3 linked regions of the Homo sapiens genome follow. The protein of the gene in region 3 interacts with the protein of the main gene of each other region in a pairwise test. Each region holds a gene or a part of one and is shown on either strand. Other genes may lie near its edges. The genes, in order: BRPF3, UNG and ACTR3.

Evidence for each region.
Region 1: the proteins of ACTR3 (region 3) and BRPF3 interact in binary tests that used the Homo sapiens proteins (3 or more experiments, as listed by UniProt).
Region 2: the proteins of ACTR3 (region 3) and UNG interact in binary tests that used the Homo sapiens proteins (3 or more experiments, as listed by UniProt).

The regions. Positions count from the first base shown.
Region 1 is NC_000006.12:36,191,905-36,199,743, reverse strand, and holds the start of BRPF3 (bromodomain and PHD finger-containing protein 3), read right to left. Parts: upstream 3,001-7,839; 5' UTR 2,774-3,000; exon of another isoform or gene 2,541-2,773; intron 2,360-2,540; exon of another isoform or gene 2,325-2,359; intron 1-2,324. UniProt on the Homo sapiens protein: Scaffold subunit of various histone acetyltransferase (HAT) complexes, such as the MOZ/MORF and HBO1 complexes, which have a histone H3 acetyltransferase activity.
Region 2 is NC_000012.12:109,107,514-109,111,572, forward strand, and holds the end of UNG (uracil-DNA glycosylase), read left to right. Parts: intron 1-2,315; coding exon 2,316-2,456; 3' UTR 2,457-3,479; downstream 3,480-4,059. UniProt on the Homo sapiens protein: Uracil-DNA glycosylase that hydrolyzes the N-glycosidic bond between uracil and deoxyribose in single- and double-stranded DNA (ssDNA and dsDNA) to release a free uracil residue and form an abasic (apurinic/apyrimidinic; AP) site.
Region 3 is NC_000002.12:113,892,930-113,900,092, reverse strand, and holds part of ACTR3 (actin-related protein 3), read right to left. Parts: intron 1-7,163. UniProt on the Homo sapiens protein: ATP-binding component of the Arp2/3 complex, a multiprotein complex that mediates actin polymerization upon stimulation by nucleation-promoting factor (NPF).

The sequences.
Region 1 (7,839 bases), on a different chromosome or scaffold from region 3:
TGTAACATGGGGAAAGATCTAATGTTCTAATGATGTACATAAAGCTGGGCGACAGCTAACTATGGAAAACACATGTAGTTAACGGTTTAGAAAAGAAAACAAGAAAAGCATCCACTGTCAAGCTCTGTACGTGAACAATGGGCCCCATCAGAGGATCAAAAGTCACTAGAGTCTTCTCCCAATACCTCTTACCACGATCAGAAACCCTACTCCTTGACCCTGCCTAGAGGTGAAGGGGTGAAGGCATCTGAAATATCTATGATACATGGTCTAAGGGCTTCAAACTACAGTATGCAGGGTATTCCCTACAAAAGACACCATCCAGGACAGCAGTCCCCAGCCTTTTTGGCACCAGGGACTGGTTTCGTGGAAGACAATTTTTCCACAGATGAGGGTGGGTGGTGAACACTGTTCCACCTCAGATCATCAGGCATTAGTCAGATTCTCATAAGGAGCATGCAACCTAGATCCCTCACATGCGCAGTTCACAGTAGGGTTCGCGCTCCTATGAGAATCCAAAGCAGCCGCTGATCTGACAGGAGGCAGAGCTCAGGTGGTAATGCTCGCTTGCCCGCCACTCACCTCTTGCTGTATGGCCTGGTTCTTAACAGGCCACAGTCTGCGGCCTGGGGGTTGGGAACCCCTGATCCAGGATACACCAACTAGTACATTTCCAGGCAGAAACAAACCCTAGAAGCTCTGAGAGTGGCTCCAAGAGATCTCTGAAGTTATAGTGGCCTGTCTAGGACCTTCATTCGACCGAAGGCCAAGATGATCTGGGCAGTATCTGAGGTAAACTCTCAATGCATTCTGTTACCTCAAAAGTCTCTCCCAGAACACTCATATCTAGTCTATCCTTGTACAGCCAAGAGAAAGTCCTAGTTTCCCCCATCATTCTCTGGATGACAAGCTCATAAGGAGCTGCGGTAGGCAGTTACCAAGGCTGTCACCACCAGGAGAGACCTTTGGGGATACAGGGCCCCATGGTGTGGGCAGACTTGGAAGGATATGAACAAAGAGAAGATTTCAAAGAGAAAAACAATTCATCGCCTTGGTTGCAGGGTCTACCATCTATATAAAGTAGAGACGGTGATAATAAAAGCACTTTTTCCAAACTACAAAGCCCTCTTACTTTTAATATTTCTCACAACTACCTTAGGAGATGGTGTAGCTATTATCATCTACACAGAAGCTCAGAAAGATGTCACTCAACGTAAAGCTAGTAAGTGATAACGCTACAATTTGAACCCAGGTCTTCCGATGCTCAATTCCTCTCAGTGGGAATTAAGAACACCACAGAGGTGCTATGGTCTGGTACAAAACGAGGCTCTGGGGCAATCTAGGTTCTAATCTTGGCCCTCTGTGACCTAGAGAAAGTCCCTTAAGCTCTCTATGCCTCCATACTCCATCAGTAAAATGAGGGTAACACAATCTAGCTCTCTAGGTGCTACTTGTTAATAAGGTATTATTAACATCTTTACTTGAAAGGCCTTCCAATCCCAAAGTGTGACTGAAACAAACAAAAAACCAATTTGGCTGAGGAGCAGTGCCAGGCGGGCTGGCACACACCCCATTTGGAGCCAAAGGAAACAGAATCATCGCAGCAATTCTGTCCGGGTTCCAGAGGCCCTTGGCTACTGGATTCCTTACAAATGCCAAGTCCCTGGGGGCAGACAGGGCCAACAGACCTGCTTCATCACCCACCCCTCCAAAGGCACCGAGGCCCTAGAAGAGGTGAGAACATCTGCCTCCACACCGACCCCAAACAGCGCAGACAGGCGGTGCGGCGCCCACTTTCATGAAAGCCGCTCCATCTTCTCCTTCCCCACCTGCCACCTCCTCGGCTGCTCAAGCATCTCTCGACCATGCAAGACTCTACACAGACGTGTTTTGTCCCACCCACGCCTCCAGACACCGGGGAGAAACTCTAGAGGGGGAAGGGACTGCTGATGAGGGAAATGAAAAGAGTTTCGCCCACAAGGAGCTTACAGTCTAGACGAGTTTTTTGGCGGGAGTTTCTCAACCTACACAGCCCTTCCCACATACACACCTCCAAAATATCTCCAACAACCCCCGCCCCCCCAGATTTCCCCTCGGCACCCCCTGACCCCTCGCTCACCCACCCCATCCAGGTCCCCGAAGAATGAGGAGCTTCTGCAATTAGACTGTATCCCCTGCACCTCACACAAGATACTCAGGAGACAAGGAGGACCCCAGCCAAGGCTCCTGCTCCTTTAAGGGGGCACCTCTTCCAGAAGAATCTTGACCCCTCGGAGAAGAAAGGAGGGAAATAACATCTCCTCAGAGGGGAGGGGCGAGCGCACCAGAGACAGCCTGACGTGGAGTCCGACCCTCAGACAGAGAAAGCGAGCGCCAGCGAATGAGCGGGGCGGAGAGGCGAGAACCCATTGGCTGCGTCACCTGCCCGTCAGAGGGACCCAGGGGACCTAGGGCCGCTCAAGGGGCGGGACTCTCGTCTGGCCAGGCCAATTGGAAGGCGTGGCGGGGGCGGGGCTTAGCGGCTCGGAATCCAGGGCTGGGGGGGGAGACAAGATGGCGGCTGCGGGAGGGGGTCCTCGCTTCTCAGCTCCCCCGCTCACCCGCCTTCTCCTTCCCTGCCGCCGCCCTCGCTCCAGGAGAGAGCTTTCGCACCGCCCCCGCCCTGCTCGGAAAGCCCCCCGCTTCTCCGGTTTCCCCCCGTGCAGTCCCTGGTCCCCGAAGGCCCCGATGCCCCCGCCCCCGCTCTGTCCGGCCCCGCTGCCGCCCCCATTACCTCAGCCGCCTGCCCGGCCCCACCGTTCGGGGCCCCTGGGCGCGGGCGGGCAGGCCGCCGAGCAGGTCGGCGCGGCCCGGGAAGCGGAGCGCGGTCTTCTCCCGCGCCTGCCTCCGTGGCCTCCGCCGTGCCCCCTCCCGGCCCGCGCTGGGGCCCCGGCCCGGCCGCCGCCGCCGCTCCCGGGGGAGGAGGGGGAATGGAGCCGCCGCTGCTGCCGCTGCCGCCACGGAGCCCGGCCGAGGGGAGGGAGGGATCAGCCCCCAGGCAGGATCCGCCCCTCCGGCCTCCCCCCGCCACCTCCACCCCTTCCCTCGCTCCCTCCCTGACTCTGCGGGCTCTCCCGCTGAACAGGAGCGAGAGCGCGAAAGAGGGGGAAACGGGAAAAAAATCCCCCCGCCCGTGCCTGGCGCGGCGGCGGCCGGGGCGGTGCGGAGAGGAGCGCGGAGGCGCCGCCGCCGCCGCCACGGGGCACCATCCCCGGCTCGGCCTCACGGTGGCGGTGCGGGCGCGGCGGGGACACCGAGCAAGAGACCGGGTCTGCGCCCGCCGCGATCCCTGCGCACCACGGCCCTGCCCGCCACGGGGCGAGCCCGATAAGAGGGCTGTGGACGTTCGGGTCTAGTTGGGAGAGACAGGGGTCCCTGACTCTTGAGCGGTCAGTCATTTCCTCCCCAGTCCTTGTGGGTGACGTGGCTACGGTTTGGAGCAGCAAGCCCCCTCCCCGAACTAAAGGGCCTCTCCAAAGGTTAAGCCAGGGCAGTCATTGAGGTCAAAACCAATATGTAGTTTCTTGACTGCAGGTGCCTGCACGACTCCCAGAAAGTCGCGTCTCCCCTAACCCCCATGCCCAGGACCTGAGGACAAAGGTCTAGCGATTGTCCATCCCCTCCCCCAGTGAGGACAGCCGGGAAAGACCTGCCTTTGTTGTGTACAGGTGAGCGTCTTGTTCCGCACCACACATCTTTTAAAAAAAAAAAAAAAAAATCTGACTTTCCGTTTAAAAGGAGTAAACAAAAGTTTGACAGTCTGCTTAAGCATGCCTGGTAACTCGTCTGTCACTGTGGGCATGGGAAACACTTTAAACCTGACTTGGTTAATTTAATGCATTAGGCGGCTTTCTAAAAGATGCTTGACAAATGGCAGCATCAGACCAAACTGGCTTTTGTTTTGATCTAAAAAAACAAAAAAATAAAGAAAAGGGCTCCATTGCCACCCCCTTTTGCCTGTAAACTGGAAAGCTTACCTCATGTGACTGAAGTCTTAAGCACCAATACATAATGATGTTTATAAAGGACGTATGGATAAGCTGCCTGTAAATGTGAAGGTGAGTGACAGTTTGAAAGTGTTTCCTCTGCTGGCACTTGTGGTGTAGCTGGTGAGACTCAATTTCTTTCTTGGTTCTGATGATCAAGGACATGTATTCTAGAGTCAGAAGGATGAAGGATAAAGTCTTAGGATCCAAATTTTCTGAATGTTTAAAGTGAACATACTGCTACTTTGGAAGTATAGATGTTATACTAAGGAATTTAAATATAGAGAGTTTCAAATTCAAAAGTTTGATTAAGGAAGCTAATTTGTTTCCAAGTAAATAGCATCTTCTGGCAAAGAGATAGTACAAAAATGCTTCTGTTAACCAATTTTTTAAATGCAAGGGGGGTGGCTCGTGGAGCTAAGCAAGGGCAGGACAATGTTTTGAAAGCTGTGAAGATGAAATAGTATGAATTAATGTCAAGTGTTCTGAAGCTAGGGGGAATAATCATTTGGAGGGAAGGTGTGGAAGAAAAAGATGATTAATTGTGGAAGAGAAAGCCCCAGAGGCAAGAAAATATTGCAATTACAGTACTTGTAGTTAAGAAAAAAAAAGTCTGAAAACTAACAGAAACTATTAAAACATGAAATATAATAATCATTTATACATATGACTAGTAACTTTTATTTCTTGATGGATGTTCTCAAAATTTATTTAGCACAATTCCCATTTGCGTGATCAGGAGCTATCTTTTTCCACTAAAATGAATGAATAAATACCTTGAGAAAATGCATTGGTTTCTACTTGTAAGTCAACGATTTAAATGCTGTTGAAAAGGCCTTAAGTCAACCTAATGCATGTGATTTTTTTCAGGTTTTTCTATTCAAAGCTTTCATATTAAGACCTTATTCAACCTAAGTGTTTCTCTTCCATTTTCAACTTCTACTTTTTTAATGATATCATTACAGTTGCCCTCACTTTAATTTTTGACATTTGGAATTGGTTTCTACAAGCATAACTGCACACGTAACCAGTTCCCTGTGATGGAATCTTAAATGTAACATGGAACAATTATGTTATTAAAAACAAATTTGGAACATATATCAAAAATCTCAGAGGCACTAAATTTAATTCACTTTAATCGTTTGCTATTTTAAACGGTTTAAATTCACCACCCCTGGCCTTTCCAATAAACCATACAGCAATTAAATTCAACAAACAGAGGCATGGATCTTTGATTCCAAATAGTTGTTTTTAAGAACCTTCCAGCTGTAAGTAGAAACCAACTTATTTGGGATAGGAGAAGGTTTTACCATTTAAAACTAAAAGAAACATGAATACAAAAAAAAATCACCATTTCCCCACCTCTTTCTTTCATACTTCCCCATCATACTTTTTTTCAGCATCTCAGGATATCTTTGTTAATGCTTCACTATTGTCATTAGTTTATCAGGCCAAGAAACCTCTCAGGGGTCAGACGCAGTACCCACTGGATTAATAACGTGGATGATAAGGAAAAAAATAGGCCTTGATTGATTGTTAAATTATTTTTAATAGAATATTCCTTCCTTAGATACTTGACTAAAAGAATTCTGAAACCACAGTTGGGAGGAATGTTTGAGGTTGGAATCATTGTGATACTTTTTTTTTTTTTTTTTTTTTTTTTGAGACGGAGTCTTGCTCTGTCGCCCAGGCTGGAGTGCAGTGGCGGGATCTCGGCTCACTGCAAGCTCCGCCTCCCGGGTTCAAGCCATTCTCCTGCCTCAGCCTCCCAAGTAGCTGGGACTACAGGCGCCCGCCACTACGCCCAGCTAATTTTTTGTATTTTTAGTAGAGACGGGGTTTCACCGTTTTAGCCGGGATGGTCTCGATCTCCTGACCTCGTGATCCGCCCGCCTCGGCCTCCCAAAGTGCTGGGATTACAGGCGTGAGCCACCGCGCCCGGCCGATACTTTTACACTAATTAAAATGGTTTAAGAATGTAAAGTTTGCTTGGAAAATGGGAAAAGTTTAGCTAGGTTAACAACAGGTCTTAAATAGAGTAACATACCACACTCTCTAGATTTAATTCCATTTATGTATTTCTAAAACGTATTCATTGACCACTTAGAGTGTGTCTAATACTGCACAAGTTCTTTGGAAAATAATGACAAAATCTCAACCTAGAAAGGGACTAATGATCATAAGTATAGATAGAATATATTTTTTCTTGCCTTGAGTAGTGTGCAATCCAGAATGGTAGAAATAAGTAGAAAACACATACAAGAAAAAATAGATAAGGCAGTGAAGAGTATGGAGCCACCATTATTCAAAGAAGGCTTCTTGGAGAATGGGAGACTTCTTTAAGCCAAGTTCTAAATCATGATGGATGTGAACTGGTGAAAAGAGTGTAAAGTGACATTGGGTTGGTGACAGGACAGTCCAGGCAAAGGGAAAATATGCAGGGAATAATGCGGAAATTATCCTAGCTGGTATGTATGGGCAGATGATAAGAAAAAGATTGAATTGGGTAGGAGGTATGGCAAGGGGACAGGGATAATAAAAATAATACCTAACACTTATGTACAAGGTACTGTGCTTAGTGCTTTATATACTCCATTTATTAAAGATCTTTGTTGCAGTTAGCAGAAAACCAACTTAAGTGAGTTTAATAAAGGAAATAAACTCTCATAACCAGAAAGTCCAGGGGTGCATCTAGCTATAGACAAGATCGAGTCAAAGGACTCGAATTATGTCATCAGCATACTGTATCTTGCAATTTCTCAGCCATCCTGAGCCAATAACTGTGGCCAGAGGGACATGCTGCTTGTCATGTATCAACTCCTAAAACCAGAGGACATGAGCAGGAGAAGATTGTACAATGGGGTAGTAGGTACATGTACAAACTAGGTCCAATATGCACACCATATCTTATTTATCAACTTACTAACTCTATAAAATGTTACTGTTATCCTCTTTATGTATTGGAGAAAGTAGAACAGGAGATCCGGTAAACCTGGAAGAGTTTACTATAGGTAATTAGGCATTATGAAAATAAAAAGGCATTAAGCAGAATGATGGAAAATGTGTTAGAGAAAGAGGAAAAGGAAAGGTCAAATCAGAAATCAGATGACAAAGCAACTGTTTTGTCTGATTGGACATAAGAACAAAGGAGAAGATTGAAGAAGAATCTAAGTTCAAACTTTGTAGGTTCTCACAGTTTGGTACAATCATTGCAAATTAAGAGGTGGCAAAGGGTTGCTCGGGAGCTCCTATTGGAGGTGGGAACCTGAGGATTGAAGAAATGATGAAATCAGCTCAAGTTCTCTGGAACCTCTTTTGGTCACACTGAAATACATATTTATTCAATTACTATTTGTGAGCTGCTGGTAAGGTTCTATTTTATGGCTGTAAAGGCCACAAAGGTGAAAAGAGTATGCTTGCAGACTTGAAGGCATTTAGATTCTAATCACAGTATAAAGCAAGGGTATTTATAACTGGAACGTGCTACAATATAAGCACTTCAAGAGAGATGCAAACGAAGTGCCAAAGTTTGGAGGAGGGAGTGAGCTCGTCTGTTTAGGAGAAGAGGGAAGGCTCTGTGAAGAAAGTGCTATCTGAGCTCTACCTGAAAGCTCTCAGGTAGGTGTGTCAGCTAGAAAGATGGTAGAGGGAGTGTGGTCCAGGCTGAGCCACCCGCATGAGCAAAGAGGAAGAACGTATCAAAGAATAAAATTTCAACAAATGAGTCCCAAAGATCCAATTGGCTTTATTAGCTGTTTATGAACTGGGCAACATCCAGTCTACAAAATAGAAAGGAGTTCCTATGAGCTAAACA
Region 2 (4,059 bases), on a different chromosome or scaffold from region 3:
TCCTCTTTTTTTTTTTTTTTTTTTTTTTTCTGAGACAGTTTCACTCTTGTTGCCCAGGCTGGAGTGCAATGGCGTGATCTCAGTTCACTGCAGCCTCCCCCTCCTGGGTTCAAGTGATTCTCCTGCCTCAGCCTCCTGAGTAGCTGGGATTACAGGCATGTACCACCACATCCAGCTAATTTTGTATTTTTAGTAGAGACGGAGTTTCTTCATGTTGGTCAGGCTGGTCTTGAACTCCTGACCTCAGGTGATCCACCTACCTCAGCCTCCCAAAGTGCTGGGATTACAGGTGTGAGCCACCACGCCCGGCCAACTATTCCATTTTTGTGGCGAGATTTTTTTGTTTTTGTTTTTGTTTTTTAATTCTTCCTTCTTAGGAGCTGTAAGACTATTCAGAGAGTTCAGAAAGGCACAAAATGGAAAGTAAATGGCTTCCACTCTTTCTCTTAAAGGAACTACTAAATACAGTGTCTTGGGTATTTTTCTAAAGTTTTTAAAAAATGAAATTATTTTGCATTTTGTTCACTTGGTAAATTTTGGAGGTCATCTCATCAGTATATTTATCTTTCGCATGTTTTTCTAGGAGTTATGTGGTTTTACATTGTAAGAACTTTAGAAAAATACATTTAGCCAGTTCTGTAACACTGAATTGTATACTAGGTTTTAGCTGACATAAGCAGTGTGTCAGTCCCTTTATATGTACCTATTTGTGTAGGTACAACTGGTCCCTGGCTTATGAAGTTTGACCTGATTTTTTTCGACTTTACAATGGTGTATAACCATACTTTGAGCACTCACACGTTGTTTTTTTTTCTTTCTTTAAGAGACAGGGTCTCTTGGCTGGGAGCAGTGGCTCACGCCTGTAATCCCAACACTTTGAGAGGCCAGGGTGGCGGATCACTTGAGCTCAGGGGTTTGAGAACAGCCTGGGCAACATAGTGAGACCTTGTCTCTAAAAAACACAAAAAATTAGCCTGGTGTAGTGGCACGCACCTGTGGTCCCAGGTACTCAGGAGGCTGAGGTGGGAGAGTAACTTGAGCCTAGGAGGTGGAGGCTACAGTGGGCCACAGTCATGCCACTACACTCTAGCCTGGGTGACAGAGTAAGACCCCATCTCAAAAAATAAAAAATTAAAAAAAAAGATCTTGCTCTGTCACCCAGGCTGGAGTGCAGTGGCACAATTATAGCTTTTTGCAGCCTCGAACTCCTGGGCTCAAGTGATCCTGCCACCTCAGTCTTCTGTGTAGCTAGGACTGCAGGTGCATGCCATCACACTTGGCTAACTTTTTAATTTTTTTGTAGAGATGGGGTCTCGCTATGTTGCCTCAGTTGGTTGTAAACTCTTGGTCCCATGCAGTTGTCCTACCTTGGCCTCCCAAAGCACTGGGATTACAGGTGTAAGCCACCGTGACTGGCCCCGTTCTATTTTTCACTTTCAGTACAGTGTTCAATGAGTTACATGAGGTACTAAACACTTCATTGTAAAAGAAGCTTTGTTTTGCCCAGCTGTAGGCTAATGTAGGTGTTCTGAGCATGTTTAAGGTAGGGTAGGTTAAGCTATGATGTTCAGCAGGTTATATGTCATAAATATATCTTCAACTTAGGATATTTTCTACTTAGGATGGGTTTTCCAAGATGTTAACCCCATCCATTGTGTTAATAAGTTGAGGAGTTTATCTGTGTGTGTATGCATCATGGTGTCCTTTAGCAAATACAGTCTTAGCAGTGGAAATTGCTGGCAGTATGATAGGGACACTTGAAAATTGCATAGATAATTGCCAACTTGAAGGCAGAGGGTGGTGCTCTTTGCATCTCAGAGCCTAGCAAAGGTAGGTAGTTGCTCAACAAACGGACTAATGTTCTAATGCAAATGCTGAATGCTCCACTTTGGAAGGGGGAGAATTTAGAGGGCAAAGGGGAATCGCACAGGGTCTTAAAGTGCAACAGCCACAGTCCTTCCTTTTTGGGGAAAAAAAAAAAAAGTCCCGGCCGGGCATGGTGGTTCACGCCTGTAATCCCAGCACTTTGGGGAGGCCAAGGCGAGCGGATCACGAGGTCAAGAGATCGAGACCATCCTGGCCAATATGATGAAACCCCATCTCTACTAAAAATACAAAAATTAGCTGGGTGTGGTGGCACGCGCCTGTAGTCCCAGCTACTTGGGAAGCTGAGGCAGGAGAATCGCTTGAACCCGGGAGGCGGAGGTTGCAGTGAGTCGAGATCACGCCACTGCAGCAAGACTCTGTCTCAAAAAAAAAAAAAAAAAATTTAAAAAGTCCCAAATCTGCCACCATTTATTCTTGATCTTTTTCAGAAGCGGCACCATGTACTACAGACGGCTCATCCCTCCCCTTTGTCAGTGTATAGAGGGTTCTTTGGATGTAGACACTTTTCAAAGACCAATGAGCTGCTGCAGAAGTCTGGCAAGAAGCCCATTGACTGGAAGGAGCTGTGATCATCAGCTGAGGGGTGGCCTTTGAGAAGCTGCTGTTAACGTATTTGCCAGTTACGAAGTTCCACTGAAAATTTTCCTATTAATTCTTAAGTACTCTGCATAAGGGGGAAAAGCTTCCAGAAAGCAGCCATGAACCAGGCTGTCCAGGAATGGCAGCTGTATCCAACCACAAACAACAAAGGCTACCCTTTGACCAAATGTCTTTCTCTGCAACATGGCTTCGGCCTAAAATATGCAGAAGACAGATGAGGTCAAATACTCAGTTGGCTCTCTTTATCTCCCTTGCCTTTATGGTGAAACAGGGGAGATGTGCACCTTTCAGGCACAGCCCTAGTTTGGCGCCTGCTGCTCCTTGGTTTTGCCTGGTTAGACTTTCAGTGACAGATGTTGGGGTGTTTTTGCTTAGAAAGGTCCCCTTGTCTCAGCCTTGCAGGGCAGGCATGCCAGTCTCTGCCAGTTCCACTGCCCCCTTGATCTTTGAAGGAGTCCTCAGGCCCCTCGCAGCATAAGGATGTTTTGCAACTTTCCAGAATCTGGCCCAGAAATTAGGGCTCAATTTCCTGATTGTAGTAGAGGTTAAGATTGCTGTGAGCTTTATCAGATAAGAGACCGAGAGAAGTAAGCTGGGTCTTGTTATTCCTTGGGTGTTGGTGGAATAAGCAGTGGAATTTGAACAAGGAAGAGGAGAAAAGGGAATTTTGTCTTTATGGGGTGGGGTGATTTTCTCCTAGGGTTATGTCCAGTTGGGGTTTTTAAGGCAGCACAGACTGCCAAGTACTGTTTTTTTTAACCGACTGAAATCACTTTGGGATATTTTTTCCTGCAACACTGGAAAGTTTTAGTTTTTTAAGAAGTACTCATGCAGATATATATATATATATTTTTCCCAGTCCTTTTTTTAAGAGACGGTCTTTATTGGGTCTGCACCTCCATCCTTGATCTTGTTAGCAATGCTGTTTTTGCTGTTAGTCGGGTTAGAGTTGGCTCTACGCGAGGTTTGTTAATAAAAGTTTGTTAAAAGTTTGTTTTGTGCAAGTGTCCTTTGTGCGTCCAGGCCAGGGCATCCATGGACGTCCTTGGGCTGCCCTTTCCCTTGGCGCCTCCCAGGGTTCCCATAGCAACCACCGTCTGCAGGAGGGGCCGCCCTTGCCCCTCCTCCCCGCCCTGCCGCTCAGTGGAACGGCCCAACCCTCCCCTGGCTGCGGTGAGCGCTGGGCCCAACCCCCGGCCTGGAGCAGCGCCCCAACTCCGAGCACCGTGGAGCACCGGCTGCCAGCTGAGACCCCAGAGGGGTAACTAACGGCCTGAGGAAGGCATTTCTTCGGGGAACATGGCGTGCCCGTCGTGGCTACGTTCTGCCAAGCCCTGTGACGTTGGAGGGGAGCCGCCTGCATCCCCCGCTCAGCCAGTGTTTCTAGACTCCGAGACATCTGGAACTCGGAAGTGAGGCCAGGGCTCCAGGAAGACTCCCTGATGACGCACTGGCCCGCAGCCCAGGCTCAGGTAGTGGGGGCTGTCAGGATGATCTGTGGGATCCCCCAGTGTCCGAAGAAAGAAGCCACAATTGTGTTTTTTTTTCTTTCTTTCTTTTTCTTTTTTTTTT
Region 3 (7,163 bases):
ATAACTCAATAAAGCTGTATAAAGTAAAATACTAGACCCAGACTAATAGTGCATAAATTTACCTTTTATCACTCTTTTGCTTAATGATCTACACAATCCACTACTGTCTATCAAATAAATCGCAAACCATTCTGCCCCATTTAAAATCCTTCTGAAATAAGGCAAGATGAGTAAATAAACTACTTGCTGTCCCACAGCTCCCAACAGAAATATCTGAATTCCAGGCAGGGCAATTTCCTAACTGACCCATCCCCCAAATACTTTGAAACTCCTTCATGACTTCCCTTTATCAGTAAAATATTTGCTGGGCATTATTAAATATCATGCAGGACGCTATCACTTGAATAGAGAATGCACAAAAAAGAAATAATCCCTGCCACTATGGAGCTTTCAATTTAGCTCACATCCTAGATTTGAAGTCCTTCTTCCCATATATCTATCACATCCTATTTATGCTTTTCCAAGGATCTGATCAAGTTCAGCTTCTTCATAAATCATCCTCCAAATACTACAGCCCTTATTAATCTGCCCAAACAATTAAATGCTAGTAAGCCATCCATAATTATTTCACACATATTAGTTTCATCTTTGAAACTAAACTGTAAACCTCAAGTATAAAATCATGCCTTAGTTTTCTTGTATATACCATAGTGTTCAGCACAGAACTGAGACTGAAATAAATACTTGATTACTTTAAGTTCTTCTATTTTTTTACTTTCATATGTGTTTTGTGCAGTCATTAATGAGCACATAATACATAGTGAGTAAAATAATTACAGTAAGTAATGCATCAGTGGAGATTATTCATTTTCAAATTGCAGCTTCAGAAATATGTATGCCTTCCTTTTGAAGATATATGTAATTAGCATCATTTCCTTGAGCTGCCCTGAATTTATCAGCAATTATCAGTCCTTGCAATACTCAAATAAGCAGTAAGCAAATCCATATTTCACTTTAATGTGTTATAGGTTAATCAAATCAGTGAACTGGTCACTAAGACCTCCCTATATGTTTCATATTTGTACTAAAAATTAGTAGCTTTGGGTTTAAGTATGTATAAAATGGACACTCTTAAAAACTGGACTAATAATTTGACCACTCTCCTTGGATGTATCTCAATTAGGGAACAGTAGAGCAGTGAGCTCTGGAATGAGACTACCCCAGGACTAAAATTCTAAATCTACTACTTATCTTTGAAATGGGATTATTTATAACAGTAACTACCTCACAGGGCTTCTGAAAAGGTAATAACATCCAAAACAAAACGTGCAAAGGGCCTTGAAATGGCTGATTGGTACACATCCCATTTAATACATCTTTAATAATTAAAATCCAAAGATATAAATCTCTGAAACCATAAAGAAAAATTTTTTTAAAGAGAGCATTCATTTTATGAAAGTCATCTGTCCTGGCACCTACAGAGCACAACTTTTAAAATATCTCTAAACTTGGTTTAAAACATTATTATTGGGAAACATAAAATTAGTTTCTCATGTGTGCCATACAGTATGCCTCTGCATTACAACGAAACACTGAAGAATTCTGATGTAGGCTTCAACTAAAACTACTTTAACTATAAATAAAATACATTATGTTATTCCAATTACTTAATTTCAACTATTAACTCATAAATGTGAACTCACAAGAAAATTTAAGAGAACTCAACAATACTATCAATTAATAATTAGGAACACTCCCAAAAGACATTTCTCAACTCTGAGCCTCTGTTTCATTTGTAAATGAAGACTGGATTAAATTATCTCTCAAAATCCCTTTTCAGCTCTATAATTCTGTGTGAGTCATTAGGCATTTCCCTTAATTTACTAAAGCAAGTTTCACAAATACACATTAAATGCTATATTTGTACCCTTGAGTAACTGAATTTTAAAAATGCTTATAGCAGAAGCACACTAGATTTAACTAAAATAATCTCTATAACTAGGCAAACACTTGTGTCCTGTCATACACTAATACTAAAAACATGGTTTACATGTTTACAGTAGATTAAGCCAACCCTAAACTACAAGGTCTTCTGCACCCTAATTCTCTCTCTAGGACTTTTATCCTCCTCATTGTAACCTCTCCTTTACACTAAATACTGAAAAGCACAGAAACCCTTCCCAAGAGCATTGCATTTTCACAAATGACACAAAGTCTTAAAGCAAGGACAAAATGTTTAAAAATAAAACGTTTAGGTAATGTCCTTCGGCAGGAGGAAAACATGGCATGTTGAGTATCCGAACAGATGAATATTCTTCTCAGGTATGTATTAGGGTTGGGGAGCAGAAGGAAAGCTGAAAGAATACATCTGGCCGAGACGGGTGGATCACTTGAGTTCAGGAGTTCAATATCAGCCTGGCCAATATGGTGAAACCCGGTCTCTACTAAAAACACAAAAATTAGCCAGGCATCGTGGCGGGTGCCTATAATTCCAGCTACTCGGGAGGCTGAGGCAGAAGAATAGCTTGAACCCTGGAGACGGAGGTTTCAGCAAGCCAAGATCACGCCACTGCACTCTAGCCTGGGTGACAGAGCAACACTCTGCCTCAAAAAAAAAAAAAAAAAAAAAAAAAATAACATCTGGCCACACAAATTCAAGCTATTCCTTTCCTGGTTCCAAGGAGTATGTAAGAATGGCTTGAGTTTAAATCGACAGTTTGGAAAGAATTTTGAAAATTCTGAAACAAAATTATTATTAAAATTCTGCAAAATCGTCCTTTAAAAAAACTAGAATTTTTTTTCTTTTTTTTGCTCTGGTATTAGTCAATTATGTAGGTTACGTTGTTTCCTGATATAAAGGCCCATATAAAGTTATAAAATCAGCACACAAACTAATATTAGTCACTATCCTATTTCAAAGAACTAAATTTAAAACAATCCAATAACATCACCTTATCTCCTATCTAATAATTCATAAATGTCGTGTTTGGTAAGCTACAGCACACATTTTTGTAGTGCTATTATTACTTAATTGCTTTGCTCTTGCTTCTTTATGCTACTGTCTATCACTGATTATGGTTGTGTCATAAAAAAGGCAACAAGCTCCAACAGAATTACAAGGGAGCATTCAAATGCTTTTTTTATTATAGTGGAATTTTGTTTCAGGAAACACATGTTGCTACATTTTAACCATTCCAAACTTCTGCTCCTAGTCCAATCCTTTAGCTGTTTCCACAAGTTGGGGGAGCAGGAGCATGCTGGACAAGGGAAATTTAGCTAGAGCTAAACTCTCCTCCTGATTAAGGATTTTGCCTCTTAGAAAATTGAATGACATAGGTGGAGATAAGATTGTCAGCATAGCGATCAATTACCACGAGCCAATCAGTCACTGTGATGCTCAAGAAGCTAGATCACATATCCACAATTTTTTTAAAGAAGGGAAACTGATATTCAATCTTTCCGTTCTTTTCTCTCTGAATGCTCTCATCTTATTAGCTTCAGTTAACAAATTATGATTCCCAAATATCCACCTTCATTCCCAAAGGTCCTGTATTTTTAATTTCCTCTAGAATGTTTCCAATTATAAATCATCATTCCAAATTCAACAACAAATTCCAATTTTACTCAGTTTCTTAAAACTAACTCCCTTATTGTCCCAATCACTCAGGCTTACAATCTTGAACTATTCATTGATGCCTATTTACAATCCACTGGAATCAACTGCCAAGTCCTAGCTATACCTCCTTCAATCTCTCAAATCAGCAAAAACATTTTGACTGTGCAGAGAACTGTGTGTGGTAGGCAGGCCAAGGCCTGCAGGAGATAAGAAAATAAGCATAACACACTGTATTCCTTTCTTTAAGAACTGAAACTCAAAAAAAAAAGAAAGCCAACCAATTATTATATTTAAAATATATTGTGCCCTTACTGTGTGCCAGGCACTGTGCTGAACCATTTTCACACATTATCAAAAAACAGAACAAAACAAAACAAAACTGGGCATGGTGGCTCACTCCTGTAATCTCAACACTTTAAGAGGTCAGGGCAAGAGGATTACTTGTGCTAGAAGTTTGAGACCAGCCTGAGGCAACACAGTGAGACCCCATCTCTACAAAAAATTTTTAAAAGTAGCCACACATGGTGGCATGTGCCTGTAGTCCCAGCTACTCGGGGGACTGAGGCAGGAAGACAGCTTGAACATAGGAGTTTGAGGATGCAGTGAGCCATGATCTTGCCATTGAACTCCAGTTTGGGCAACAGAGACCCAGTCTCAAAAACAAACAAAAAAAACCTATAAGGTATACACTATCATCTCCAAATTACAGATGGGAAGAAATAAGACCTGCAGAGGTTGAAGTGTATAAAGTCATATAGCTATTAAGTGATAGAGCTTGAACTCAACAACAGATAACTACAAAGCCTTTGCTACCCGTAAATAAAATAACACGAAATATAACTGCCAGAAGAAACGTAAAAAGAAAGGAAAAAACCAATCTTTTCCTAACTTATCTCTTCTGCTCCAACTCCACCGCCAATACCAGGTTTCAGAATTTCTGCAAAGTTAGCCCTTGAATGGGCTGCTGAAGAATCATCTAGGAAGCCTATGTAAATGAATATTCATAGTCCAACCCTTGAGATTCTGAGTCACTGGGTATGGGGTGTTTCTGATGCACAGTTTTTTTAAAAACCATACTCCTAATTCTTGTTCATTCATTCATACAACAAAGATTTGAATTCCTACTATGCACCAAGCCATGTCAAACGTTCATCTTCTACGGAAGGAAGATCTAGTGTAGTGGCTCTGCCATACTTACTTGCTACAGTATCTTGGGTAAGTAGCTTAACCTCTCTTAAGACTAAATTTTCTAGCCTATAAAACAAAGATAATACTTTCCAGGTTGTTGTGAAAGTTAATGAGATAATATAAAGCATTTAGCACAGGGGCTGACATACAATTCTCGATAAATGCTAGCTATTATTATTTCCTGAGAAACACAACCTAGAGAGTAATTTTTTTCTAGAGATTAAATTTAAGCAAAGTAACAAGGAAATAGTCTAGGCATTCACATATCGGCAGGGGGGTGGGGGGGGGGAACCTAAACCAAGTAAAGATTACACAGAGGGTTTTCTCTAATTAGGTGAATCAAATTCATAAGGCTGAGATTTTTTTTTGTAAGAGTTCTTTAAACAGAAATACAGTTAACTTTACTAACAACAATGAAGCAACACATAAAGTTCTGAAAAGGCAGTCAGGAGTCCCCGGAGTGTTAACAGAAAGAACACAGGACTTAAATACAGAACTCAGGTCCAAATAGCAGATCGAACCACCTGCCAGGTAGACGGCATCAAAAAGGTAATTTAAATTCTCTCATTCTGTTTTTTCACTTATAAAATTAGGTTAAAAAATAGCTGTCACAGAAAGCATGGCCAGCAGGTCCTCCACAGGACCTTTCCGTTCTGTGCCTAAAATTCTGAACTGTGTTTTACAATAAGCCTGAAAGTTCGTTCACCGCAATATAGTATTTGCAATCCAAAGTCAATATTTCAACACAAAATTGGCAGGCAGGAAAGGAGGGAGAGTCTTTCGCTAAGTCTAAGTAAGAGTCTGACTTCTCACTAGGAGCATGTCTGTTGTACTTACTTCAAACAGCATGCAAAGCATGACTCATCAAGGAATAAGAATTTCAATGAGTGCTTTTTGGTTAAGAAGCTATTGTGAATATTTCTGCCTTTGGAGATGGCTAAAGAAATAGCATTATTAAGCCGGTGCAGTGGCTCATGTCTGTAATCCCAGCACTCTGGGAGGATGAGGTGGGTGGATCACCTGAGGTCAGGAGTTCAACAACAGCCTGGCCAACATGGTGAAACTCTGTCTCTACTAAAAATACAAAATTTAGCTGGGCGTGGTAGTGGGCGCCTATAATCCCAGCTACTTGGGAGGCTGAGGCAGAAAATCACCTGAACCCAGGAGGCAGAAGGAGGTTGCAGTGAGCCAAGATCATGCCACTGCACTCCAGCCTGGGCGATGAGAGCAAAACTCCATCTCAAAAAAAAAAAAAGAAACAGCATTATTATTAAACAATACGCACAGAATTCATGGAAGAAACATGAACTTCCCACATATACCTTCCTTCATTTACCCAGCTTTTCCCCACTGCTCTTCAAACAAGATCATTCTTATCTGCACTAATTGCTGAATTGTGGCCACAAGATGAACATACTCCTCTTTCACTGACACCTACAAGATATTTAAGCTTACATTTTAAGATTGCTAAGAAGTTGAAGTCAGTTAGCAAAATTCCTTAATCTGCTCCAGATATGAATATATCCAAGACTTTGACCATAGGGCTATATTAACCTCTGCTATCATAATCAGTGGAACTAATTTACCAATATTTTATTTACCAGGGGAAAAAAAAAGACATAAAAGGGAAAAGGAAATTCACAATGCAGCTCTGTAACCAAGCTACGATATAACAAGGAGTTAATAAGGAGCGCCCTCATTTGGCTTGAATGATGGAGAAACTTGAGTAAAAACATGCATTTAAAAAAAACCTTTAAGGCTGGGCGCGGTGGCTCACACCTGTAATCCCAGCACTTTGGGAGGTTGAGGCGGGTGGATCACGAGGTCAGGAGATGGAGACCATCCTGGTCAACATGGTGAAACCCCATCTCTACTAAAAAGAGAAAAATTAACTGGGTGTGGTGGCATGTGCCTGTAGTCCCAGCTACTCGGGAGGCTGAGGCAGGAGAATAGCTTGAACCTGGGAGGTGGAGGTTGCAGTGAGCCGAGATCGTGCCACTGCACTCCAGCCCAGCGACAGGGCAAGACTCCATCTCAAAACAAACAAACAAACAAACAAAAAAACAAAAAGCAAAAAACACATTTAAAAAACGATCCCTTCCACCGCCCAGAAAAAAAAAAACCTTAGGATGATCATACAAGTGTTACAATGTTTTTTTAAAAAATGTTTGTGAATGCCTTTTAAAGAAAATGCTTTTCTCACCACTAATAGCAGGTTTGAGTTCTGTTATTTAGTTTTCAAGCCACCAATGGGAATCTATGTGCCCCAACTGTATTTTACAATGCTTTCCAATACAGACCAAAAAAGTGTGTAGATAAGGGTATCAATGTGAATGAAGCATTTCTTTTCAAATTCTTTTCAAAATAAGTATTCTCTTTTATGACCTGAATCTAGGTGATTCATATGTTGAGTTTTGCT